Homo sapiens: one gene and its partners. The protein of the gene in region 3 interacts with the protein of the main gene of each other region in a pairwise test. Each region holds a gene or a part of one and is shown on either strand. Other genes may lie near its edges. The genes, in order: LAMP1, MANSC1, VSTM1 and KCNJ6.

Region 1 (7,801 bases), on a different chromosome or scaffold from region 3:
CGCCCACCTGGGCCTCCCAAAGTGCTGAGATTACAGGCGTGAACCACTGCACCCAGCCGAGTATAAAATTGTTCAAACCTCCTAAGTGACAGTTGTTCAAGTGGAAAGGGTAAGGCGGTCATCCTGCTGACATCAATGGTTTAAAGGGTCACATTACGCAATCACAGCTAATCCTATCTATCAGGACAAGTTTCAGTTCATGTTTGAGCTTTCTAAGTATTCAAACACAGTAGCTTTAAACAATGCCTAATTATTAATATAGTGGAAATTTGTAATTGAGCAGTTTCTTTTTTTAAGAAAAAAGGATTTTTGGTGAAATCGCACATTAAAATAAACATTTTAAATATCTTTAAATGCAAGTTGTTAAAAGGCCTTTTTTAAAAGTTGGATTTTGGCTAGGCACGGTGGCTCATGGCTGTAATCCCAGCACTTTGGGAGTCTGAGGCAGGTGGATCACGAGGTCAGTTCGAGACCAGCCTGGCCAGCATGGTGAAACCCCATCTCTACTAAAACTACAAAAATTAGCCAGGCATGGTGGCGCGCACCTGTAGTCCCAGCTACTAGGGAGGCTGAGGCAGGAGAACTGCTTGAACACAAGAGGCGGAGGCTGCAGTGAACGGAGATCACGCCACTGCACTCCAGCCTGGGTGACAGAGTGAGACTCTGCCTCAAAAAAAAAAAAAAAAAATTCTTGGGCCAAGTACGGTGGCTCAAACCCGTACTCCCAGCACTTTGGGAGGCAGAGGGAGGCGGATCACGAGGTCGGGAGATCGAGACCAGTCTAACCAACATAGTTAAACCTAGTCTCTACCAAAAATACATAAATTAGCCTAGCATAGTGGCGGGTGCCTGTAATCCCAGCTACTCAGGAAGCTGAGGCAGAAGAATTGCTCGAACCCAGGAGGCAGAAGTTGTAGTGAGCCGAGGTTGTGCCACTGCACTCCAGCCTGGGCACAGAGCAACTCCGCCTCAAAAAAAAAAAGTTAAGATTGTAAACATAAAAGATATAATGGAACAGATCTTAGAAGACTGATTACACAAGCAATATTCCAATCACAATATTAGGGAGTTATGGATTTTTTCTCTTCATTTTTAAAGTTAATTTTTTTTTTGTTTTGAGACGGAGTCTCCCTCAGTTGCCCAGGCTGGAGTGCAGTGGCTTGATCTCAGCTCACTGCAACCTCTGCTTCCCGGGTTCAAGCAATTCTTCTGCCTCAGCCTACCAAGTAGCTGGGATTACAGGCGTGCGCCACCATGCCCAGCTAATTTTTGTATTTTTGTAGAGACCGGGTTTCGCCATATTGGCCAGGCTGGTCTCGAACTCCTGACGCCATGATCCATCTGCCTCGGCCACCCAAAGTGTTGGGATTAAAGGCGTGAGCCACTGCTCCCGGCCTGAAGTGAGTTTTTAAAACATGAAACAAAACATCAAAGTTATGAGGCTTGTGAGCATCTGTAACAAAGAACAATGCAGTTGCTGTGACATGACAAAACTTGTTTCTGCAACTCCTTTCATTAACTACACCTGACCCTGTCGCAGGAGCTGAGCAAGGCTTCAGGCTTACTATTGGAATAAGTTCATCTCTGTGGCTATTCAGGCAGTTCAAAGAATTCATTTTACACAACAGGCAAAACAAAAAAGGGAAGCCAAGATCCATTCACTCACAGTAACAGAGTTTTACAGCTGGATGGGACTGAGGGATTTAAAGAAGTCAAGGCAGATGTGTACAGGAGTGTATTTCTATATCTACTTAACTCACACACACTCCCCCAGCTTGATTCTACATCACCTTTCAGATCCTGGCATTTAAGATAATCTTCTCATATTACGGGGGAGGGCGGCGGGGGGAGGAGGTGAAAGAATAGTGTTGGCGGGGGGCAATCCGGACTGTCTTAAAGAGACAGCACACATCCTCTTATTAAGACAATAAATGAGAACGAAATTCACTAGTCAATACAATATTGAGCACCTACTGCCCATCTGAGCTCTATAAACTGACAGAAGAGAAGGGTGCTTCCCCACGTGTTCCCTGGTCCCGCATTTCGGCCTACAGGAACGGCGCTCTTTAAACTACTTACTAGACATGAACATTGCCACCGTGAGTCTGAGGCCAGCTTTCCCTCATCTTGTCTACTACGGAATCTTGTGAAATCCCAAAGATAACTTTAAAAATTATTTTAACATACATGTGAATTCACAATAACATAAATACACTCGCATCTCCTCCACACCGCTGAAAGAGGAGAAAGGTTCAAGTACAAAGGTGGGGAATGCTCGCACCGGCTTCTCCCTGTCCTGGGTGAAATCCATGTTGGGAAGAGCTTGATCTAGGTCACCCACCCGGGAGCTGAGACCACAGACGTCCCTGCCACCTTCGGCGGCGCAGCCTCGTCTAGATCTCACCGCCTCAACTTGCCAGGAAACTTAACGACCTGAAAGCACCAGACCGCCGAGCAAGCCATCGGAAGTTCCCTTTCGCACTCACCACCACAGAAAAACTGAGTTCAGTGAGACAGACCTTAGAGGAGCCAGGTCCTGGGATGAGACCTCCTGGTCCCCCAAGCACCTGCCATTGAGCTCCGCTCCGACCCTACGACCCCGAGAGAAACACCCGCCCGCGGGCAGAGCCGGCCGGGACCAGGAGCAGTGGGTGCGGGGCGACCCGCGGGACAACGACCCGGCAGTCCCCCGCCCTCAAGACCCAGGGACCTCGGCTCCGCCCGGTCCCGCCGCTCCCAGGCCCCGCCTCGACCCCCTCACCGAGCAGCAGCAACAGCAGTAGCAGCAGCAGGGGTCGCCGGGCGCTGCCGGGGGCCGCCATGGCGCGAGGCGGCCGGGTACGGTGCGGGGAGCGGGGGCGCGGGCGGCGGTTGGGCCGCGGACTGCCGGGCGCTGCGGTGGCGGGGCGCGGGCGCCAAGGGCTGGCGTTAGAGACAGCGGCGTTACCAGACGCAAGAGGCCCGGCCACTGCGACGCCGGCACGAAGAAGACACCGCGGCCGGCAGCGCTTGTCACGTGAGCTGCGCCGCGCCCGGGCGTCACGTGATCCCGCGGGTCTCGCGAGAGCGCGCGCGTCGAGCGCCGGCGGCTCGGCTCCCCGCAGGTGCGGCAGCTTCCAGCACCGCGCGCCCCCTCACGCGTGATGCAGGCCGACACGTGACCCGCAGCGGCACGTGACCCGCAGCGGCACGTGACCCTGGACCCACGTGACCCGGCCTGGTCCGGGGGACTGGGGCCGAGCCGAGGTCCTGAAACGGGAAGTGGGCTGGGTTCGCGGAAAAGGAAGAGGAAGAGTAGTGGCGGGAGAAAGTGAGGAAAGAGGAAGCCCGCGAGGGGAGAAAGGGCAGACGGATCGCGGACGCCCAGGCCTCCCTTCAGCCTGCGAGGCGTCCCAAACGCGGGCTCTTTATGGACAGGAGGGTGGTGTGGGTGGCAGCGCGGGTGACCGGCCGGGTGCGCGGCCAGGGATGGGCGAAGGGTTTGTCTTTTGGTGAGTGGGAAGCAAGTTCCTCACACAGGGAGGCCACTGTGCCCAAACTCTTGAGTGGTTTTAGGAAGGAAATAAGGGATCTGAAATGGGTCAGTGCGGCCTTCCGCTCGTTAATCGCGGGCTGAGGGAAGACGGCACCAGGCTGCCCAAGGTGAAGGTGAAGGTGCGATGGCGATACTCTTTGGCTTACAGAAAGTTCCTGTCGAGCACTTTGTTTTTTTTTTTGAGACGGAGTCTCGCTCTGTCGCCCAGGCTGGAGTGCAGTGGCGCGATCTCGGCTCGCTGTAACCTCCGCCTCCCGGGTTCAAGCGATTCTCTTGCCTCAGCCTCCCAAGTAGCTGGGATTACAGGCGTGCGCCACCACGCCCGGCTGATTTTGTATGTTGAGTAGAGACGGGGTTTCACCAGTTGGCCAGGCTGGTCTCGAACTCCTGACCTCAAGCAATCCACCCGCCTCGGCCTCCCAAAGTGCTGAGATTACAGCCCTGAGCCACGGCGCCTGGCTCCTGCATTTTAGAAGTCTGAAGATGCTCTGTTTTTTGGCTTGTCATCATATAGGATTTATGGCCTTTTGTTAAAATACTATTTAATTAAGGCCCCTACGCTACTGCTTTGTATAAAGCACCCGTCGCATAAGTACCTACATCTTAGAAAAAGATTTAATCTTACATTTCAAAAGGCATCATAGCAACGGGGACTGGATGTGCACCTAGTTAATAGAGACAGCACTCAGCCAGATAAAGACAGGACCAGGCACTCACTATCAGTCCTCACCAGAGGACTGTGACCTTAAAAAGGGCGGGATTTGACCAATTCAACACTGGCATTTTGATAGACCCCACCTTGCTGTCACTTGTGCTTAGCACCCTGCATCTGCTGCCTAAGGATCTGCTCACATCAAGGACTTCCTTGGAAGACAATGACTTCTGTCTGGATCAGGCTGGAATACACTCCTTGTTCCCGTCATTGCTTTCCTTGGATTGATCCATTAACCCCTTTTCCTATCCTCTTTCTCTTGATGTCCAATGTTACTTTGTTTGATGGGGAATGTTTAAACCATAGCGTTTGTATTTTAAGTACACTATGATGTATAGTTTGCAGTATTGACTGACACGTGGACTGGCTTGAGCCTTTGCCCATGGCTCTACCAAGTTAACAAGTAGTACTGAAGGGAATTGTCTCGAGGCAACTCCTCGTAGCTCGTGGCTTTTATAATTGAAATAGCATCAATATATTCCCACCCTGTGGAAAGACATAAACGTGTGTGGACCTGGTTATGTCTGACCTTGTGCTGTTCACAACATGCCTTGAGAGAGAAATACTTCTGAACTGAGGCCTCTCACACGATGGGTACAGCAAGTGCTAATAAACTTCTGCTTGTTTCTCCTGTTGCTCTGAATTTTGTTTTCAGGAGAATGTCTCAACTAATAAAGAGAGAAAGAAGAGAAATTATATTTTCTCCCCTGCAGTGGAATGAGACAATTACGCGAAACTCTGGAGGTTTAAATTCGGGGACTCCTCTGATCCACTGCTTCTTAAGGAGGCTAGAAGTAGGGTTTAGAAAGTAGGAGAGGTGTTTGAACAAGCATACTGAATATTACAGTTTTATGGTGCAAAACAAAAACCTGCTTAACAATGCAAAAATAGAATCTAATGCTGGACAAAATCTTGGTTGAAGGAGGTTCAGAGATGACATGATTCCCACACTGTGTCCTAAAGTGTGTATCAGAACGGAGGGAGGGCATTTATCAAAAAAAGGCTCAGAAACACTCATCTAGTCCAAACCATACATATCTGTTCTTTCCTTTCCTGCTGCTGCCCCATGCTCTGGCCATACTCATCTATTTACTTCACCTGTCTCCACTTTTTTGTGGTTACAATTATTTAGACAAAGTGATGCCCTACTCCCTCCCTCCCTTCTTTTCTTTTCTTTTTTTCTTCTTTTTCTGATTCTTTCCTTTTTCTTTTCTTCCCCCTTCTTTCTTTTTTGTTTTGTTTTGTTTTGTGACAGGATTTCTCTCTGTCTCCCAGGCTGGAGTGCAGTGTTGGAATCAAGGCTCACTGCAGCCTCAAGCGGCCTTCCCACCTCAGCGTCCTAAGTAGATGGGACTACCGGTGCACACCATCACACCTGGCCAATTTTTAAAAAATTGGCTGGGATCACAGGCATGCACCACCATGCCAAGCTAATTTTTGTGTTTTTAGTAGAGACAGGGTTTCACTATGTTGTCCAGGCTGTTGAACTCCTGACCTCAAGTGATCCACCCTCCTTGGCTTCCCAAAGTGCTGGGAATACAGGCATGAGCCACCGCGCCTGACCTTTTTTTTTTTTTTTTTCACATTTTATAGCTTTTCTTTGTTTTTTAAGTTAGGAATTCAGTGTGGAATATATTTCCCTGAAGACATTGTTAACCTAAAATAATCAAGAGTCAGAATCTACTTTAAAGAGAGATTATTCAAGTGCAAAGTTTGAGGACAGGCCGCCCAGGAAGCACAGATTCCAAAGAACAGAAGTCGGTGTTCTGAAATGTAGCAGTTTGGGATCATTTCTATAGATGAAGTTTAGGGAAACTTAACACAATTCCAGCATCTTTCTCTCTGAGGGTGAATGCACAGTTACTGTGCTCCGATTAGCCAAGGTGGTCTTTTCCTATTGGGAAAGGTATGTTTGGCGTTCCACACGGACTACGTCACGGGGTCGTCGTGCCATCTAGTCTGAGTTAGGACAGATGCACAGGACAATGAAGGAGGCGGCTGGTCCACAGCAAAGATCAGTAATGGGAAGCGGGGAAGTCTGGTCTCTGGTCTCTCCTAGTCATTTACAAAACAAGAACAAGAGGCTGTGTGGTCACCTGTCAGCCTAACCAGTCCAAGAAGCTGAAGTTGCAAACGTGCTGCATGACTCAGGCCACAGGGCCTAGCTTCCCGCTTGGCACAAGAAACAGGCTCCTGAAATTTTCTTCTGCAGTTTCTGCCACAAGAGTTCAGGTTTGGAAGCTGATACATGGGCTCAGTATTTGAAATAAAGTAGTGGTTGATAGGTAAAAATTGAGATAAGTAGTCTTTTTGTAACAATTCTAAAGGATATTTTAAATAAAAGTAGAATAATATAATGATCCCCGCCTTGCCTACCACTATTACCCGCCTTTCAGTTACTACTTAAAAAATGTTTTTTAGAGGTAGGGTCTCACTGTGTTGCCCAGGCTGGGTTGCCCAACACTGCAGCCTCATCCTTCTGGGTGCAACTGAGCCTTCCACCTCAGCCTCCCAAGCACCTCCAACTACGGGCACGCACTGTCACACCTGGCTAATTTATTTTTACTTTTGTATAAAAGACAGGGTTTGCTATGTTGCTCAGGCTTATTGTGAACTCCTGGGCTCAAGTGAGCATCCCGCCTCGGCCTCCCAAAATGCTGGGATTATAGATGGGAGCCACTATGTCCAGCCCAGTTACCAACATTACGGCTAAACTCACCTTGGGCATTTCTAGGTCACAGTTGGAATCCATGATTTCATCAAGAAGCCCTGGTTTGGGCCAGGCGCAGTGGCTCACACCTGTAATCCCAGCACTTGGGGAGGCTGAGGTGGGAGGATCCTGTGAAGACAGGAGTTTGAGACCAGCCTGGCCAACGTGTTGAAACCCTGTCTCTACTAAAAATACAACAATTAGCGGGCTGTGTTGGCGTGCGCCTGTAATCCCAGCTACTCCAGAGGCTGAGACATGAGAATCACTTGAAACCTGGGAGGCAGAGGTTGCAGTGAGCTGAGATCATGCCATTGCACGCCAGCCTGGGCAACAGAGTGAGACTCTGTCTAAAAAAAAAAAAAAAAAAAGCCCTGGTTTATTTTGATGAAAAATGGTCTTTAGAGATGTCAGAGTCAAAAATGTAGAGATGACTCTCCAAATTTAACGTTTTATTTGGGAAGAAAGCATTGCAATTCAGGTGTCAACTGCAAATAATGAGATTCAGAAAATCTGATTACCTATAGTGTGTATTTGAGTGCAGAGCTTGAGGATGGCCACCCGGGAAGGCACTGACTGCAGACACATGGGGTCAGCGTTTCCAAGTGGAGAAGCTCAGGTTTCACTTACCACGCAGAGACAGAAGCTCCAGCAGGATCACCACAGTTCTCATATGAGACCAGGGGCACACGCCGCAGCGGTTCCATTGGTTAGGGATCTCTGTATTTGAAGGAAGATTGCGTTATGACTCCATGAGGAGGGGTAGTGATCTGAGGGGGTCTTATCTCCGGTGCCATTTGGTCTTTATTGTTTACAGGGAGAAAGGCAGAAGTTGCAGCTGCGTGTG
Region 2 (7,184 bases), on a different chromosome or scaffold from region 3:
TGCAACTAGACAGTACCATCTGGGGGTGATGGGAGACAGTGACAGATCATCAGGCATTAGATTCTCATAAGGAGTGTGCAGCCTAGATCCCTCACATGTGCAGTTCACAACAGGGTTCGTGCGCCGATGAGAATCTACGGCCACCACTGATCTGACAGGAGGTGGAGCTCAGGCAGTAATGCATAATGTAAATACAGAGGAAGCTTTGCTCTCTGGCCCACTGCTCACCTCCTGCTGTGTGGCCCATTTCCTAATAGGTACTGGTCTGCGGCCCAGGGGTTGGGGAACCCTGTGATAAAGGACTGGTATCCAAAATATACAAAGAACTCAAGTCAGCAATAAGAAAAGAAACTCAATGGACAGAAGATCTGAGCAGACACCTTATCAAAGAAGATATACAGATGACAAATAAGCATATGAAAAGGTATCTAACATCATATGTCATTAGGGGATTGCAAATTCAAACAAGATACCACTACCCACCTATGAGAATGGCTAAAATCCAAAAAATGGACAATACCAAATACAAGGACATGGAGCAACAGAAATTCTCGCCTGGGCGCGGTGGCTCACATCTGTAATCCCAGCACTTTGGGAGGCCAAGGTGGGCAGATCACTTGAGGTCAGGAGTTTGAGATCAGCCTGACCAACATGGTGAAACCCCATCTCTACTAAAAAAAAATACAAAAATTAGCCAGATATGGTGGCAGGTGCCTGTAATCCCAGCTACTTGGGAGGCTGAGGCAGAAGAATCGCTTGAACCCGGGACGTGGAGGTTGCAGTGAGCCGAGATCATGCCACTGCACTCCAGCCTGGGCAACAGAGTGAGACCCTATCTCAAAAAAGAAAAAAAAAAAAGGAAAAATTCTCATTCATTGCTGTTGGGGAATGCAAAATGGTACAGCCACTTTGGGAGAAGTTTGGCAGTTTCTTACCAAGCTAAATGCAGCCTTACCATACAATTCAGCAATTGTCCTCCTATGTATTCACTCAAATGAATTGAAAACTTATGTCCACACAAAAATCTGCAATAGAATATTTGTAGTAGCTTTATTCATAATTGCCAAAAACTAAAAGCAACCAAGATGCCCATCAATAGATGAATAAACAAAATGAGATACATCCATACATTGGAATATTACTCAGTAATAAAAATAAATGAACTATCAAGCCACAAAAAGACATGGAGGAATCTTAACTGCATATTCCTAAGTCAAAGAAGCCAGTCTGAACAGATATGAATCTAACTGTATGACGTTCTAAAAAAGGCAAACTACAGCGGCAGTAAGAAGGCCAGTGGTCACCAGGAGAACAGGAGTGGGAGGATGAATCGGTGGAGTGCAAGGGATATTTGGGGCATTGAGACTATTCTGTATAACACTGTAATGGAGGATACATGTTATTGAACATCTGTCAAAACCCATAGAAATGTAAAACACACAGAGTGAACATTATGTGAACTATGGACTTTTAGTTTTAAAAAAAGGTAAAACCAAAAAAAAAAAAAAACCCAGAAACAAACCAGTATATGGTAATAAAACACAAGTCTAATACTTTTCTTGCTGTTTGTCAAAATTCTGTATACAGTAAAATAGTAACATTTATTGCGTCTAAAATGCCAGTTTCTATGCTAAGCACTTTATATATATCATGTCATTTAATCTTTACAGATCCCATTATTATCCTCATTTTAGTTAAAACTTACAAAAAGTTGTGGGACATAATATGTGCTTCTTTATTAACCTATTAAGTAACAAGTGGTCATCTAATAACTGCCATAATTTTGACGTGGTATTGAGTATAGATAATATTTTGAAACGTGCAACAAGTCATGTGATATAAAGATATCGGCAATATTTACAGGGGGCAAATCATAGCTACTGCTAATACTACTGTGGCTTTTGCCTACATTCCATTTCAGAAGTCGGTGAAATAATAATTTTTTCCACTCAAGTTCACAGACATCCTGAATTCTATCCATGGATACCTTATCGTGGACTCCCCAGGTTAATAATTCTGGCCAAGGTACTTAATACGCTGCCATATTTTGCAAGCCTCTAGGGAATCAAGAGAAAACCAGGCCAATACTTTATTTTGAATGGATTCTAATGTAGCCTCTTTTCAAGCTTTTGCAAAGAAACCTGAACTATGTAAGGAGATGGGGCAGGAGTTGTTTTCAGTATGCAGCATTGAGAGAAGTGTTTAAGAGTTTTATATCATTAAAGAGGCTCAGCAATATTAGGTTAGCGACGTTTTCTAATCCATTATTATTTAGGCTTTAAGGGCCTGAAGTCGAGTTGAATCTTGTTGAAAGACGGGGTAAAAGGATACAGGCGGGTGAGAGAGGATGCCCCTGAGTTTTAACGTCTGCATACAAGAGTCGCTAAAACTTACTCGCACGTAATTAGTTCAAATATTGGAAATCGTCTTACAGCACACTATAATTTACCAAGATGCTTATAACTGTATACACACACACACTCTACAGAGAATTAGACAATTAGCAGTTTCAATAATGAATACAGAGTCAACGACAAGAAAACAGGGAACATTTTCTCTTCCTTTGAGGAAATGCATGTTGCCTACTGAGCTATTCTTCTGCCTCTCCTTCTGATGTCAACGCAGAGCCAGAGCCATTTATGGCAGGTGCCTTGAGCCCGCCTAGAGGTCCCCTTTGGAATACTGCAGCGACTCAAGGATCCTGGTCAGCCCTTATTGGCCCCAGCTGGTCCTTTGGATGCTCGGGTGTGGGTGAAGGAGCCTCGGCCCCTGGAAAGGAGGGGACCGACTCTCTCCGCAGGTAGCGACGTCGCCTGCGGCCGGTCGGGGGTGGGTATTGGGGAGACCCCTTTACCTGGCGTCGAGAGGACCCCGGCGCCCCTGCTGCCATCCAGGTGCGAGGACAGCTCTGTCGCGCCCGCGGGAAGGACCGGCGAATCCGCGCGGGGGTCTCGGCGAGGACCGCAGCGGATGCTCCGCAGCTCCCGCACCGGCCTGGCGGGTTTTGTGGTTAGCAAGTTCCTGCTTCCGTCGCAGCGACGGCAAGTTTGCCGCGGGGGAAGGGCACGTTCCTGCCCTGCAACCCGGAGCTGCTTCCCGGCAACATTAGCGCGTCCCTCCCCGCGGAGGCTCCGGGCTCCCGGCCCCAGCGCTGAGCCCCGCAGGGAGGTGGCTCCCCCCACCGCCCCGCGCTCCCCCCCAGCTCAGCCACACCGCTGACCCCGGGCTGGGCGCGCTGCGAGGGGGAGTGCGTGCCTCCCTGCTGGTGGCCCGAGGGTCTGCAGGTGAGCCTTGCCTCGCGGCCCGCGCAAGTTAAAATAAATGCACATGGGGAAAATGTCAAACAGTACAAAAATAGACACAGAGACAAGTCTACCCCTCACCCCCGTGCCCCAGTCTCCTAGTCTCCCTCCTCAGAGGCAACCACTGAGAGCAGTTTTTTGATGTTCAAGGGCTTATAGTGCATCCTATTGGGGGCATAGTTCTGAGAATCCTCTTTCCATAATTGGAGGATGGAGTCCTCAATTAAAGATGGCAATTCTTGAGTTAAATATTATCTGCAAGACAAACTTCAGGGAAGGTATTTGGCTTTCTGCGGGATTTATTGTTTGTAGATAGGATAATAATGGTGAAAATGCTGGTGTCTGTAACATATATTAAAACTGTATCCCTAACACTTAGCATAGTGCCTGGTACACAATAGGTGCTCAGTAAATATTTAACTAAAATATTTTTGTTGACTGAATGAATGGAAAAGAACTGCATAGGGCATAGGTTGTGGAAGTTTCTAAATTACTGCTGGCCCCATCCCCACCTCCATAAACACACACACAAATGCAACGTTACTAAACCATTGACACTTAGTTTGCCATATGGTCTAACCTTTGACAGTATCTTCACCTCTGTTTTGAAAGAGCTTGCAGACCTGAAGCGCTATGCAATTGCAAGTTAAGTCTAGGCCTGTACGGCCAACAGCTACACACCCTAGTCTTAACCAATAACTACAGGAGGATTAGGTTGACTGAGAATGCTTGTGAACAAAGGTCCATTGTGTGAAACTAACTCTACTTGTAACCAAAGGATGACTCTTGAATTACAATGTTGCTAAAGCTAGGTTTGAAAGAGTTACCAAAGAAAAGTAAACACCAGAGTAATTTCCCATTGCAGTGATTTTCCTGATGCAACAAGGGACTGATCTGCAAGTGTGTTTTATCTTTTATCATCTGATACACTTCAGGGTTCAGGGTGTAGAGCTATCACAGTTTTTGAATCTCTCTACATGGGGTAATCCATGCTAGTTACAAAGTAGACCTTTCCATTATTAGAAACTTCGTATTCGGTGCTTTAATACAATGAACCTGTTTCTTTTTTTGTTTTGTTTTGTGTTTTGTTTGTTTTTAGAGACGGAGTCTCGCTGTGTTGCCCAGGCTGGAGTGCAGTGGTGTGATCTCGGCTCACTGCAACCTCCACCTCCCGGGTTATAGCAATTCTTTTGCCTCAGACTCCTGAGTAGCTGGGACTACAGGCACATGCCGCCACGCCCAGCTAATTTTTTTCTATTTTAGTAGAGATGGGGTTTCACCGTGTTGCCCAGGCTGGTCTCGAACTCCTGAGCTCAGGCAATCCGCCCGCCTCGGCGTCCCAAAGTGCTAGGATTACAGGCGTGAGCCACTGTGCCCGGCCTGAACCTGTTTTCATTGAAGTGATATGTTATTTTTTCAGTTATGACAGTGAACAAAGGATATTGATTAAAATAATGATTAAAGAAATATTTTCTATTATATATGTTTAATTTATAAATATCATTGTTTATTTATTCATTTTTTTAGACAGGGTCTCGCTCTGTTGCCCACACTGGAGTGCAATGGCACAATCACGACTCACTGCAGCTTTGACCACCTGGGCTCAAGTGATTCTTTTGCCTCAGTCTCTTGAGTAGCTGGGACCACAAACGCACACCACACCCAGCTAATGTTCTTAATTTTTTTTTTTTTTTTAATTTTGAGATGGAGTCTCGCTCTGTTGCCCAGGCTGGAGTGCAGTGGCACGATCTCAGCTCACTGCAACTTCTGCCTCCCAGGTTCAAGCAATTCTCCTGCTTCAGTCTCCTGAGTAGCTGAGATTACAGGCTCATGCCACCATGCCCAGCTAATTTTTGTATTTTTAGTAGAGTCGGGGTTTCACCATGTTGGTCAGGCTGGTCTTGAACTCCTGACATCAAGTGATCTGCCCACCTTGGCCTCCCAAAGTGCTGGGATTATAGGCGTGACCCACCGTACCCGGTGTTTTAAATTATTTGTATAGATGAGGTCTTGCTACATTGCCCAGGCTAGTCTCAAACTCCTGGGCTCAAGCAATCCTCCTGCTTTGGCCTCCCAAAGTGCTGGGATTACAGGTGTGAGCCACTGCACTTGGCTTACTTAAAAATAAAATAAAAACTTTAATTTCTGGCCTGAGTCATAACTTAGAAATTATATCCATTGTCACTTCATTTCCTGAAGAGATTCTTGACACTCTTCTCTGAGGGTTAGAAGTCCCATCTATGTGGAGAAAGATTTCTTTAAAAGTAATCGGAAAACATGTATTAAGCAGCCAGGCGCAGTGGCTCACGCCTGTAATCCCAGCACTTTGGGAGGCCGAGGCGGGTGGATCACGAGGTCAGGAGATCGAGACCATCCTGGCTAACATGGTGAAACCCTGTCTCTAATAAAAATACAAAAAATTAGCTGGGTATGGTGGCGCGCGCCTGTAGTCCCAGCTATTGGGGAGGCTGAGGCAGAAGAATGGTGTGAACCCAGGAGGTGGAGCTTGTAGTGAGCCGAGATCGAGCCACTGCACTCCAGCCTGGGTGAAAGAGTGAGACTCTGTCTCAAAAAACAAACAAACAAACAAACAAACAAACAAAAAAAAAAACATGTATTAAGCACCTGCAGGGGAAACTAAAGACCAGTAATACCAATGAGATCTACCTTTAAGATGTTCATAGTTCAGAAGGAGAAAAAGTAAATCAATGGCTGTGTAAACAGTTAAGTGTGATGAAGGCCAGGTGTAGTGGCTCATGCCTGTAATTCCAGTGCTTTGGGAAGCCAAGGCAGGAGGATCACTTAAGCCCAGGAGTTTGAGGCCAGCCTGAGCAGCATAGCAAGACTCCATCTCTACAAAAAATAAAAATTAGCATGGTGTGGTGGTACACGTCTGTAGTTTCAGCTACTTGGGAGGCTGAGACAGGAGGATCTCCTAAGAGCCTAGGAGGCTCTTAGGAGGCTGTAGTGAGCCATGATAGCATCACTGCACTCCAGCCTGGGCAACAGAGTGAGACCCTGTCCCTGCCCTCCCCAAGAAAAGAATAAATGTTATGATAGAAGATGGCAACTAAAAAGGCTCAGAGAAGGGACATCTGATCCCAATTTCTGGGAAGAGGTGTTAATTATTGAAGAATGAAGTTATTAGCAGATGAGGAGGAAAAGGCTGAATATTTCAGGAATAGGAAACTGCATGACCACAGGAAATTCAGCCTGTTAGGAAGGTTACCAGTGTACACAGAAGAATAGAGAGAGAGGCTGGGGTCAGAGCAGGAAGGTTTTCATATGTTAAATCTTAAACTTTATCCTAAAGGCATGGGGAGTTCCTGAAGGCTTTTTGTAGGGCAGTGACAGGTCCAGAGACCTAATTAATATTCTAGAAAATTATCTCTACCTGCCACAGGAGGGATGGATTGAGGGACGTGAGGCCAGAGGCCTCTCTTCCAAGAAACGGAAGTGATAAGGCCCTGAAATGGGCATGCAGATAGAGGAGAAATTAAGAGGAGAGGCTCTCCAGGACACAACGATTGGTTGGATGCAGTGCTGACAGTAAGCAGGCTTCTGGCTTGGGAGCCTGGTTGGGTGGGAGTACCAGGTCATATAAAGACACGGGAAGAGGAGTCAGTCTGGAGTGGACAGAGGCATGATGAGTTTTGAAAACGTGAATCCTGGTTTTATCACTCACTAGTTGTGTGACCAAGAATAAATCACTTAACTTTTCTGTAAAATTAGGAAAGTGGTATCTACTTTACACGCAGGTCATAATATAGACCTTTTTATGCAGGTCTAACATATAGACCTGCAGACCTGTAAACTCAAAAAGGCTGTTCAATTGCTAGTTATTACATATACAATAACACAGTTTGCTGCTCATGTAGAAGG
Region 3 (6,599 bases):
CTGGTCTAGGAGTTTGCAGCTCTGGGCGTTTTTTGTTTTTTTTTTTTTTTTTTTTTGAGATGGAGTCTCACTCCATTGCCCAGGCTGGAATTCAATGGCGCCATCTCAGCTCACTGCAATCTCTGCCTCCTGGGTTCAAGCGATTCTTCTGCCTCAGTCTCCCAAGTAGCGGGGATTACAGGCGCCTGCCACCACGTCCAACTAATTTTTTATTTTTAGTAGAGATGGGATTTCACCATGTTGGTCAGGCTGGTCTTGAACTCTGACCTCAGATGATCCACCCACCTCGGCCTCCCAAAGTGCTGGGATGACAGGCGTGAGCCCGGCCGTTTTCTTTTTTGCTTGTTGTGCTTCCTGGAGATGCTCAGTAATTCTTACATTCTTTCCTGGATAGCTGGTCAATCATTATTTATTATTTCCTTGAATTGTTCTAGGAGGAAATGTGGGGTAGAAAGAGTATGGTGGGGTTCTTGGGCATGAATAATCCATAAATAAGTCAGATTTCTTTTTAAGACGAGAAACTTAATTTTATTGATATGGACGAAGAGCAAGGAAACACAGTATCTGCATCTCCAGATTTCCGATAACCTTGGCCAGCACGATCCCCCCTCCTTTAGTGGCCAGGGCTGTCTTCTTGCTACACTTTCAGTGCCGCATATTCATGAGATCCTGGGGGCTCCTGGGTGGTGTCTGAAGCTGCCTCAGACAGGGCGCTGGTGCTTAGCTCAGCATAGGTCACTCCTTGGGGGTCTGCCGTCTTTGGAGAAAATAGATGAATATTAGAACTGAGTGTTCAATATGGCAGCCACTAGCCACACATGGCTATTGACATTTAAGTTAATTACAATTAAATTTAATTTAAAACCCAGGTCCTCGGTCACACCAGATGCATTTCTTTTTCTTTTCTGTTTTTATAACCCTTTATGCCTGTGACATCAATGGATCTGCGTAAGCCTTTTTTCATTTTTTTTAAATTTTTATTTATTTATTTATTTTGGGACAGAGTCTGGCTCTGTCGCCCAGGCTGGAGTGCGGTGGCGTGATCTCGGCTCACTGCAACCTCCGCCTCCCGGGTTCAAGCCATTCTCCTGGCTCAGCCTCCTGAGTAGCTGGGATTACAGGCGCCCACTACCACGCCCAGCTAATTTTTTGTATCTTTAGTAGAGATGGGGTTTCACCATGTTAACCAGGATGGTCTCGATCTCCTGACCTCATGATCCGCCCGCCTCGGCCTCCCAAAGTGCTGGGATTACAGGCGTGAGCCACCGCGCCCGGCCCATGCATAAGCCTTTTAAATGGAGATTTTGGTTCCCATTAGGGGAGTTTCGTGACTTGTCTAAGACCACATGCGTGATAAACAGTATACATTTCTGTATGGGCTTAACCAGGAGGCACACACGACCAGCCCATTGTGGTGAGGGAGCTCTTGTGGGACTCCTAAGCGGGAGGACTCACCGAGAGAGATACCCTTTCCATATTGGATAAATCTGCCTCTGAGTGAGAAAGGAAAAAAAAAAATCAGTTCTCAGCTGCAGAAGTCAGAACTTAGTCTTTCTATCCGGTGATTCCCTTAAACTTCCCCTGTCCCTTACCGGCAGCCTCCTGCTCCGGAAGTTTGGAATGGCTGGTTCTGAAAGAGAGAGACACACGTGAAAGGATGGGATGTGAAGATTTCGGGGAGAGGGTGAGGGCAATGGAGGGGAGAGGAAGGGAGAAGAAGGGAGAGGAGGAAGGTCACAGAATGGGCTGGGGTGGGGGCTCAGGGTGCCAATCCCGGATGTGCCAATGGGTTCCCTTGAGAATGACATGGGAATAAGTGGAGCATGAGCTATGCCAAGCATCTACCTCTTGGTGGATTCCTCAGATGATGAACCTACAAAAAATGCAGGAGGAATTTACCTACCGAGAAAATCCTTCACTCCCCCTCTCTCCCTTTGCGTTCTCTGAGCTCACTGTGCTGGCTGCATCTGTAGATGATGAAGACTGAGAGGAAGAGGAGAAGGATGGAGATGCAGCTGAAGATGGCGACAAAGATGGTTCTGGTGTCTGGAGGGGGAAGAGCAGGTCAGGGAATCAGCCTGGCTCCTGAAATCCACTGATAGGGGCGAGCCGAAAAGCTAAGAGAAGCCAGACAGATGGCCTGGCTTCCAAGCCTGGATCTCCCACCTCGGAGCTGGAACTTCCTATTGCTTTGGGGAATTTCCTTAATCTTCTCCAAGCTTCTGTTTCCCCATCTGTAAAGTGAGGATAGCAGCAGTAGCTACTTTATTGGATGGTGGGTCAGTACCTATAGAAAGGGCTGGAACAGTGCTTGGCGCATAGGAAATTCCAAAAATTCCCAGGGAATGTTTGGTGCATAGCAATGATATTGATCATTTATTGTGAGCCAGCTCTGTTCCAGGTGCTCCATATATATATATACGTGTGTGTGTGTGTATATATATATATAAATGTATATATATGTGTGTGTATATATAAATGTGTATATATATATATATATATATATATATATATACATATATATATATATATACACACTTTTTTTTTTTTGAGATGGAGTCGTGTTCTGTCACCCAGGCTGGAGTGTGATCCTGGCTCACTGCAACCTCCACCTCCCTGGTTCAAACAATTCTCCTGACTCAGCCTCCTGAGTAGTTGGGATTACAGGCGTGAGCCACCACATCTGTCTGTGTAATCACTGTCTGAAATCCACTGATGGGGTGAGTAGAAAAGCTAAGAGAAGCCAGACAGATGGCCTGGCTTCCAAGCCTGGATCTCCCACCTTGGAGCTGGAACTTCCTTGGAGCTGGACATTTCGACCAATAGACTTTGAGTAAAGCAGATGACCCACTGTCATAGGGGTGGGCCTCATCCAATCAGTTGAAGACTTTAAGACTTTAAGAGAAAAGACTGAGGTCCCCCAAGGTGGAAGGAATTCTGCCTCCAGACTCAAGCTGCAATATCAAGTCTCCCCTGGATCCCCTGCCTGCCTGCCCTGCAGATTTCAGACTTGCCAGCTCCCCACAATCACGTGAACCAATCCATTAAAATCAATCTCTCTCTCCATATATGTATATACATGTATATGTTCTCTTTTTTTTTTTTGAGACAAAGTCTCACTCTTATCGTCCAGGCTGGAGTGCAATAGTGCAATCTTGGCTCACTGCAAGCTCCGCCTCCCGGGTTCAAGCAATTCTCCTGCCTTAGCCTCCTGAGTAGCTGGGATTACAGGTGCCCACCATCACGCCCGGCTAATTTTTGTATTTTTAGTAGAGACGGGGTTTCGCCATGTTGGCCACGCTGGTCTTGAACTACTGACCTCAGGCAATCTGCCTGCCTCGGCCTCCCAAAGTGCTGGGATTACAGGCGTGAGCCACCACACCCAGCTTATATCTATATGTTCTATTGGTTCTGTTTTTCTGGAAAACCCTGGCTAACACAGACATGATCTCAGCTCTTAACTTCAAACATATTTCCTTTTTCTTTTTTTAAAGGAGAGAGAGAGATGTGAAAGGACGGGATGTGAAGATTATGGGGAGAGGGTGAGGGCAATGGAGGGGAGAGGAGGGGAGAGGAGGGAGGTCACAGATGGGAGCTCAGGATGCCAATCCCAGATGTGCCAATGGGTTCCCATTGTTGCCCAGGCTAGAGTGCAGTGGTGTGATCATACTCGAATTCCTGGGCTCAAGTGGTCCTCCTCACTCGGCCTCCAGGGTAGCTGGGAGTACAGACCACCACGCCCAGCCAACTTCAAACACACTTCAATGAGCTCGTTGATGCCAGGTAATGAACAGCAGTGACACGGGCATGGAAGGCGTTTAGAGTGGGGAGGGGTGGGGCTCTCTGAAGGAGACATGATTCCCCAAGACACAGAACAAGGGATCAGCTGGGAGAATTCAGGGAGGATTCCTAATAAGAACAGGGTTAGAGCAGGGTAGAAAAGAATGACCAGTGGCCGGGCACGGTGGCTCACGCCTGTAATCCTGGCACTTTGGGAGAGTGAAGTAGGTGGATCACTTGAGGTCTGGAGTTCGAGACCAGCCTGGCCAACATGGTGAAACCCTGTCTCTACTGAAAATATAAAAAATAAGCTGGGCATGGTGGCGCACGCCTGTAGTCCCAGCTACTCAGGAGGCTGAGAGAAGAGAATTGCTTGAACCTGGGAGGCGGAGGTTGCAGTGAGCCGAGATCGCATCACTGCATCATACACTCAACTGACCAAGACTCCAACTCAAAAAAGCATCCCTCTCAGGAGATAAAATTTCTACCAATTAAAAAACAAAAACAAAACAAAACAAAAAAAACTAGTTCTTGAGCAATATTGCCATGCAAGTCTACATCATAGCGTTTTAAAGTCTTAACAACAACCCTGCAAGGTAGTACAATTATTTCCCTCCCACTGGTGAAGGGCATGCATTCCCGTGTGACTCCTGGGATTACAGCAAGGGTTGTGTCCAAAGCTCACAGCGTTGAGGAAGAGAGAGCAACCTGTTACTAAAGCTAGGCGACAGAGTCCATGCAGTTCCCCCCCGTTTTTTGTTTTTCTTGGCACTTTAGATTCAAGAAACACAAGTCGTGAGACTTTAAGGAGTAAGTAGCAGAAACGTGATTAAGGAAAAAAGTTGAGCAACTATAGAAGTGAGGCCCCAGAAAGGGGCTTCACCAAGACCCCCGCTATCTTTGTTAGTGTGCTTTGAGTCTGAGAATTTTTCCTAGGTGTGCAATGATCTGTGGTCACATTACAGAGCCAAGTCTGAGATGCTTCACACGCCTGGTCCTCTGCACCAACAGAGGGTCTCCCATCCAGACGCTTCCCCTACTTGGTTCGCTATGTTTGCATTGGCATTTCTACATATCTATATATAGAGAATTACCTATCTAATTTATCTATCTCGCTAATCTATCTACCATCTGTCTAGGTATCTATTATCTATCTACCTATCTATCTTTATCTGTCTCTGTACCTACTTACCTATCATCTATCCAATCTATCCGTCCTATCTAATTATGATTTATCTATCTACCTACTTGCCTATCACCTATCCAATCTATCTATCCTATCATATGTAATTAACTATCTGTCTGTCTAATTTTTCTATCTTGTTAATCTATCACTTATCTAGGCATCTATGTATCTATCTTTATCTGTCTATCCACCTGCTTACCTGCTGTCTGTCTAATCTATCCATCCTATCATATCTAATTATCACTTATCTATCTACCGACTTACCTATCATCTAGTTACCAAATCTATCATCTATCTAATGTATCTATCAATCATAACCAGTTATCTATCATCTATCATCTATCATCTGTATGTATCTGTCTATTCACCTACTATTATCTATTTAATCTATTCTATCTAGTTATCTATCTATCTATCCACCTACTTATCTAATTTTTCTATCTTGCAACTCTATCACCTATCTAGGTATCTATGTATCTATCTGTGTATCTGTATATCTATCTATCTATCTAGCTAGCTTTATCTAGCTACCTAGTTACCTATCATCTATCTATCTAATCTATCATCTATCTAATGTATCTATCAATCATATCTAATTATCTGTCTATCTAATCATCTATCTTATCTATTATATCTAGTTATCTATCATCTAGCTAGCTAGCTAATCTATCTGTATCTATCTACCTACTTACCTATCGTCTATTTATCTATCTAATCTATCATATCTAGTTATCTATCTACTTACTTATCTAACCTGTTGTATCTAGTTATCTATCTACCTACTTACCTATCATCTGTCTATCTATCTAATCTGTCCATCGTATCTAGCTACTTATCTACCTATCATCTATGTATCTATCTAATCTATCATATCTAGTTATCTATTTATCTGCCTACTTGCCTATTATCTATCACATCTAATTATCTATCTATCCCCCTCCCTGAAATAAGGTTCTTTCTGAGCTGATCATCAGGGAGCAGCAAAAGGAGTGGGGAGTTTGAAACAAGACATATTTGAGTTCTAGTACTGGGTCTCCTACCTCCTGACTTTGTAAATGTTCCCTTCCCTTTCTGGAATACGTTATTTTTTGGTTAAATATAAGGAGGGGGCAGAGAGCTAATAATATCTAACTTGAAGAGTTAGGTAATGATGAAAAATCCTGGCTTTAAAGCGCTCAGTCTAGAAACTGACTCATTGTGTCGGATAATGGGATTGTAGGTATAATGATGATTTTTTTTCACCCAATATTCCACCTACACCCATCTCTCTCTGTAATAGATTCTGTCAATGTTCCTCAACCCATGTTCCCCAGATCCCTTTCCCATTTTTATGCATTCTAGATCGTGGCTTCTTTCCCTTTCCAAAGTGAACATTTGTATCTCTTCTTTGGGGGACTGCCTGGGAGAACTCCAAATGCCTTGGAATTTACATGCCCGGGACAAACTGCCACTGACGGCTGTGGGGACCCCAGCTCCCTAGCCTCTGGTCTTCGACCTTCTCTGTCTCCACTGCTTTCTGCAGGATGGAGCCAAAGATACCATCTGAGGGACACAGATATCCCACACTTGTTTAATCTATTTTCCTCCCAGCCCTTCTTCCCCACTCCCTAAAATGTAATTTTCAAGCCAGGCG
Region 4 (7,026 bases), on a different chromosome or scaffold from region 3:
AAACCTAAGCCAGTAGCTCCCACCCTTTAGAGTGCATCAGAATCCCTGGAGGGGATGGGCAGATGATTGGCCCTGTCCTCAGGGTTCCTGATCCAGTAGATCGGGGGGTGAGCTTGAGAATTTGCATTTGTAGCCAGCTCCCTGGTGATGCTGCTGCTGGTTCAGGGACACACTATGGGAACCACTGACCTCAGCTGACTTTCATCAGCTCTGATGCCTCCTTTTGTCCACAGAGACCCCCAACAGTGGCCAGTCAAGGAGACATGTGGAGTGTGGGCTTGGGCCCAACACTCCTTGAGTGCTGATTAAAAAAGAGGGCCACCTAATGCGGCCTCTCTTCCAATGACAACACATAATGTCATAGGTTCTTTATTTGCCGTCCTCTTTCTGCCCTCTCTTTATATGCTTTACTACTGTGGGCCCAGCCACCCCAGGAGGGCTAATGAAAATTTAAGAGGGTGAATATGTTTAGGGTATTGACTGGTGAGACCTTGGGAGACAGCTGAAGAGGAAGGAATCTACCCCATTCGTTGCCATTATTGAAACTAGATTTCTTGAGAGGAGGAATTATATGTTAGTAGCACTATATTTTGCACGTTAGAGATGTCTAAAAATCTGAAGTGTGCTCTGCCTAACTCGTCATGGAGTCTTGGCTCTGAAAATGTTGTAAGGTGATGCAAAAACCTCCGAAGAGAGATTTCATTCCTTGTCTTTTGACTGAAGGTAGTGTGTTGACAACAAAAAGCAAGGGTAAAGCTTTTCCATGAGCAGTGAGTCCTGTACCCTTCCTCTTAGTCATGTGATGCTGCTTAGTCATATGATTACTGCATTCCAGACCTGCTCTCATAGACACAAGGTTCGTGTAGGGACTGAGATATCATTTTTGGTTAAATGTGATTCATTTTTTTTATAGAGAAATGATGGCTCCCTCAGTCATAAAGCAATGGCCCCATAGAGTGGTGAGGTCCAGTCTGATTTGTTGACTGAGCCTGAAGGGCATCGCTTCTCTCATAGCCATTAGAAGTGCTCTGTGTTGCAGAGACTTTGAAATACATACACTCCAACCCCAGTTCCTAGCTCTCTCAGCTTCTTTATGCTTCTAGTGACAAAGAATTCAGAGCTGTGTAAATGCAGAGAAGACAGATCACATTACCTCTGCCCCGCTCTGACTACTGAAAATGCTTTCTTATATTGAACCAAAATATGTCACTTTGTAGCTTCCACTGCTGGGTCCCACTTTTATCCCTTAGAGCCCAGCAGAACAATTATAATCCTTCCTTCATCTTCAAATATCAAGATACCTGAAAACAACTATCATGCCTCCTCCCCCACATATTCTCCAGGGAAAACACTCCTAATTCTTTCATCTACTCTAATATTACATGGTTTGGACTCAGGTACTGTCCTGCCTATTCCCTTCTGCACATAGATTGTTGGATTATATCCCTTTTAAATTGAAATGATTGAATGTGGCAGTGAAATAAATCCTGTCCTCAAAAACATTCTCTTCATTAAACAGAAGTTCCACTATGAGACATTATTTACTTTGGAATGGCAAGATATTTGAAGAGGTCAAGAGTTTTCTAATCCAGTATTACTGCCCCATGGAAGGATTAACATGCATTACTGGTATTTACTGTTTCATTTTGATAATGTTTTCCCCTGCATGAATGTATGTGGCTGTGATATCTGAGTTAGGGAAATGGAAACGATGTAAGAGAACCGGAAGTATTATGGATCACCACTCTGTTTCTTCTGGTTCTTCCTCTCATAGTCTTCTCAGATATTTCTCCCTGACATTTCTCTTTTCTAGGTTGTAAGTTTGGCATTAAAGCTGTTCTTTTGCTTCTAGTGAAAAGGTATGGAACTTAGTTTCCAAGTTTTCTCCTTGAGGGAAGCAGAGGTTCTCAAACACTGCTTACAAATTACATGGTCTATTTTCAGGAAAACAATGACTATTAGTAGACTAATTCAACCTAAACTTACAGCATGTATCTAGCCTATGGACATTTAGGGGATTTAAAACAAAATGCAAATTGCTAGTCAACAGCAAGTGCCAGATATTAGAAGACAGCATCTAATTCTTCAGCATTCTTAGACACAATGTGGGTGTAATTGTCAAGATTAGAACATTGCTTTTGAGCATGGGTTGTGAAGTTGGCTTTTCTCCTTTGTGTCTACTTTAACAGATCAGCTAACAGAAATCAAACAATATGTATTTGCATCTCTTTTGTTAAGAATCATCTACACCTACTCCAAAAGTCAACATATCCCAACTAATTTATTTTAAAAAAATACACCACTAAAGAATGATTCAAGGGCACCAGGAAATATTGTCTCTACCAGGAATCTTTTCACCACTGGGACAAATCATTTCCTCTGCCTTACTCTATCCTGATTCACATTAGCTGTATTTCTTTGCTGCCAGACATTTATATCGGGCATGCATACCAAAGACTCCAGTGTGTTCACCCTACCAGTTTCCCTCCTCCTGGATATAGAGCTGAACTACAATTTGCAGCTGCTCTTGCAGTTAGGTATGACCATAGAATATGAATAGGAGTGATATACATTACTTCTAGGCCCGGATCATTAAAATCTTCTACATAATCATCTACTCTCCCTCTTTCCTTGTCTGCTAGTTGGATATCACCACTCAGCAGATCTTAGAAGCCATGTACTAAAGATGACAAAGTGTCCCTCAGCCTGGGTCCTTGTACGGCATCAACCAATTAGATTTATGTGAAAGAAATCTTCTATTTTGTTAAATTAGTGAGATTTAGATATTTTCTGTTTCAAGAACTTTCTAATTAATACAGTATACACAGGCTCATCAAGAACTGAAGTTAATGCCACATTGCAATAAATGAATAAAAACATCTGCTATTTTTAAAGTGCCTACTTTGTGCTGGACACTGCACAAAGAACTTTTTTTTTTTTTTTGGAGACAGAGTCTCCCTCTCACCCAGGCTGGAGTGCAGTGGTGTGATCTCAGCTCACTGCAACATCTGCCTCCTGGGTTCAAGCAATTCTTGTGCCTCAGCCTCCTGAGTAGCTGGGACTACAGGCATGTGCCTCCACACCTGGCTGATTTTTGTATTTTTAGTAGAGATGGGGTTTTGCCACTTTGGCCAGGCTGGTCTCAAGTCATCTCCTGGCCTCAAGGGATCCACCTGACTCGGCCTCCTAAAGTGCTGGGATTATAGGTGTAAGCCACCGCTCCTGGCCTGTGCTAAGAACTTTACTTACATTATCACATGAATCCTCATAACATCTCTGAGGTATATGTTGTTATTATTACTCTTATTGTTATTATTTTATGATAGGGAAAGCAAGGCATAAAGTTGATTAAGGTCACATAGTTAGCATAGTGGATTATATTATTGCCTCCAATTATTCTCTTCCCTCTCTGAAAGATTAGATGTCTCTACCTGTTGCTGCACGGCTTGCAGTGCTTCACTGTGGGAGAAATATACATCTCCTTCCCATTGATCATTGACACTGATGTGACATGTGAATTGTCCGGTCAATGGAATGTGAGTGGATAACTTGTGCCATGTCTGAGCAGAAATGTTAAGGGCCATTGCTTAACTTGGGAGTCTCCTTTTCCTCTGATACTGGGATAGAGTGTTCCAGACCAATTCTTGATCTTGAATTCCAGAATGAAGTCACAGGAGCAGAGCCACAGCTGACCAGCAGAGGCATAGCGCTCCAGAGAATAATACGCCTTTGTTTTGTAAGCCACTGAGATGCTGGGGTTGCTGTTACTGCCCCAAACTTGGCAAAAATGGACAGATACACCTAGACCTTGATGCAGATTCAGTTAGTAAGAAACACCGGAGCCTGTGCTCTTAATCACGGAGCAACACCGCCTACCAAGCACATTGTCAAACTTGCACAAGTTCCTGCTAGATGATACAAGAGAAATTTAAAGCATCATGAAAAAAATCAATTCTTATCCTGGATAAGAAAAAAGTAGATGTCTGTAAGTTTAAAGAGGAAACTGCCACAGGATTTAAACTTAATTTATAGATATGTCTCTCACATTGCATATAATACCTTCAGATTTAGTCCCACAGAACAGTTGTTGGCAAGGACATGGATCTTTTTAGCCACAGATGCACTTTCTGGTTCCTTTTGTAAGGATTTCATGTCGGAAACCACATCTCTGTGACTGGGAATAAGACCGGTGATACATGTTAGCCAAAATCTATTCACTAAAAGAATCACCAGTACTGTATGATTCCTGGTCCTAAGCACAGCCATACAGAAAAAATGAGAAGCATGAGACTCAAGGAGATAATGGGTTTAATCTGACTTGGATACATTTGTATAGACATAAATTAGTCACTTGGTTAAAATTTAGGGTTAACTTTACACATTGTAATTGGGAAAATTGATTGATGGCCTTACTGCATTCCATATAAAATCAGATCTGAATGACCATTTGAACATTGCACACTGCACAAAATCATTCTCTGAGGTTTTGTTTAAACAATGATTCAATTTAGTAACAAATAAATAAATGAATATTTACAACTGATTAGCAGGTATGATTAGATCAAAGCTATAGTTTAGAGAGGATACAGACTCTTCTTTTAATGATGAGACCGCTCTTTGAGGAAAATAATTTCACTATTATTTAATGTTATTAAAATGATAGCAAGTATATGTATATTCTAGTACTTTGCCAGAGGAAATTCAGAATACCATTAGAGCACTAACTGCAATTGTGATTATCTCTTCTTTTTATTGGAGCCTAATTATTTCTAGAAATAATTATTTAAAATGCACTTCAAAATGTATTTTTATCCTAAACAGCTACATTTTATTCTTCTATCTCTCCAAATACTTTCACTAAAATTAAAAAGAAAACTAACTCAACAAAAGTGTTTTGATGATTTTTCAACTTAACTGCCAATTTCCCCCTTACTGGTATTACCAAAGTTAATAATTTTGTAAAACTCCAGAGTGAATCAATTATCTTTTGGTACTTAAATGCCAATTATTGAAGATAAAATGAAGAAACAAGAAATGCCATCTCAATAAGCTATAAATCCAAATTCACTGAATTTAAACATCTTAATTCCACCAAACTTAAAGTTCTAATACAATGAACTTAGAAAAACCAACCTCACTTTGAAAAGTATTGTCAGTTTAAAGCTGGTAGCAATAAGTAACTGCCTTTTCCCCTCACTTTCTTCTTTCCTCCTACTCTGCCTATTTCTGGTCCATTTCCATTTCCATATTACTTACATATCATTTGATAAAGGAAGAACTGGTGAAAAAGAGAAGAGCTTCACCTTATCTGCCTGCCTTTCCATAAAGAGCATTTATCTTGTTTTCATTAAGGTTTACATGGTCAACATTAAACCCTTGAGAACAGCAACATTTTCTACCTGTGAAAATCAGTGAATGGGGTTAAGATTCCATAAGGGTATTTTATTTTTAATCTCCAATGAATTTTTTCTATAACTTCTTAAATAACTATTCTAATTTTTTTCCCTATAAAGTAGAGGTAGACTGAGATGATAGGGAGGAATATGAGACTGAGTTAAAAGCCCTTCTATATTCTCAAGGAAAATAGTTCATGTAAGTCCTATGTATTAAATAAAGACCTGTCTCACACAAAGGAAAACATACTAATGTTTAGGCAATATCTAGATGAGGTAACTATTGTTTAGGCAATACCTAGAAGAGGTATCAAAATGATTTTTTAAAATAGCAAAATGGAACCAAGTGAATGGGGGCGAATTTTCACAAGTTGCTCTCCTTAACAAATCTTACTTGAAATGAGTAAACCAATTATTTTGGAGTATGCTATTGACTGAAAAGGGCATAGTGACACTTTGTTAATCAATTAGCCACCTAGGAAGAAAGCAAGTCATAGTTCGGTGAATAAGCACTGAATATGTGAGCATGGAAACTACCAGAAGTAAAGATTATTGACTGAACAATTTCATATACCTAGATTATTGACACCACCCCCCTTTTTAATTTATTAGAGAAATTGAACTTTAGAACTCAGAAATACATTACTTTGTTTATCTAACAGTCTATATTCTCGTATAGCTTCATCCTCATAATGAACGTCTACTTCCCTTCTGCTGATAATGTCAGATGGAACAAGGCCAAGGAACAGCTGCGTTGTTTAATACTCCACGTGTCACTTCTTCTGTCTACTTTAGGTAGCAACCTTTTCATAAACTAAATTATGGATAAACTTGTCAATACCTATCAGGAACTGAAATGTAAGAAATAGTGTAATAACTCATCCTTTTGCTTAGGTTTGAAATAGATTGCTCTGTCTTCACTAGCAATCATTTGAAAAGACTGGAAGGTAGAAACACACTGCTTTAACCACATCCTGAGTGCTCAGCATGCAATATCTTTAGAAACAACATGTCACACTTGGAAAGCCCAGCAAGGAAAACCAGGATCATATCTTGTTTACCATTAAAAATAACAAACCAGAACCAGCTCAAGACCTCATGCACAAGTGCATCCACAAAACAGGAAAGCAGCCAGGGATATTGTTGAAGCTTTATCAACATTTCCAACCAGTTGCCAAACCTTGACTGGGCTCTGCAATTCAAAGTATACCTTGTAACACCTGGATGGCACTCTGACAGGCATTCTATTTCAAATATGACTGTCACCTTCCTGTATTATTTTTCCTCTTCATATCAGTGACAGTTGTGGTGGTGGGGGACCTACTACCAAGGATGAGAGCAGGGCAAAGACCAGCTTCTCGTAAAGTGAGAGCAGAAGGGCTTGATGGACTTACCTGTTTTCCCTGTATGAATGTTGAAATGGAACTTGAATGGTAATAAATCCTCCCCTCCTGCAGTTTCTTCCTTGTTTGTATTAAGAGAAGTGACTCCTCTCGGTTTCCTACGACTGCAACCTAGGAAATGTAGCCACCTTGCTCACACGCAGGCTTGAAGATGTGATCACTGGCTCTCATCTTGCTAACAAACTCTCTCTCCTTTTCGGAAGCTCACCAGTGTTGTTTTGATTCCTTCC

What was found.
Region 1: the proteins of VSTM1 (region 3) and LAMP1 interact in binary tests that used the Homo sapiens proteins (3 or more experiments, as listed by UniProt).
Region 2: the proteins of VSTM1 (region 3) and MANSC1 interact in binary tests that used the Homo sapiens proteins (3 or more experiments, as listed by UniProt).
Region 4: the proteins of VSTM1 (region 3) and KCNJ6 interact in binary tests that used the Homo sapiens proteins (3 or more experiments, as listed by UniProt).

Annotation. Positions count from the first base shown.
Region 1 is NC_000013.11:113,292,456-113,300,256, reverse strand, and holds the start of LAMP1 (lysosome-associated membrane glycoprotein 1 precursor), read right to left. Parts: upstream 3,019-7,801; 5' UTR 2,823-3,018; coding exon 2,762-2,822; intron 2,619-2,761; exon of another isoform or gene 2,520-2,618; intron 1-2,519. UniProt on the Homo sapiens protein: Lysosomal membrane glycoprotein which plays an important role in lysosome biogenesis, lysosomal pH regulation, autophagy and cholesterol homeostasis.
Region 2 is NC_000012.12:12,347,224-12,354,407, forward strand, and holds the start of MANSC1 (MANSC domain-containing protein 1 isoform 1 precursor), read right to left. Parts: upstream 3,020-7,184; 5' UTR 2,855-3,019; intron 1-2,854.
Region 3 is NC_000019.10:54,040,324-54,046,922, forward strand, and holds the end of VSTM1 (V-set and transmembrane domain-containing protein 1 isoform 1 precursor), read right to left. Parts: intron 2,235-6,599; coding exon of another isoform or gene 2,167-2,234; intron 2,047-2,166; coding exon 1,954-2,046; coding exon of another isoform or gene 1,904-1,953; intron 1,874-1,903; coding exon 1,846-1,873; intron 1,631-1,845; coding exon 1,593-1,630; intron 1,494-1,592; coding exon 1,456-1,493; intron 758-1,455; coding exon 638-757; 3' UTR 502-637; downstream 1-501.
Region 4 is NC_000021.9:37,906,442-37,913,467, forward strand, and holds part of KCNJ6 (G protein-activated inward rectifier potassium channel 2), read right to left. Parts: intron 1-7,026. UniProt on the Homo sapiens protein: Inward rectifier potassium channels are characterized by a greater tendency to allow potassium to flow into the cell rather than out of it.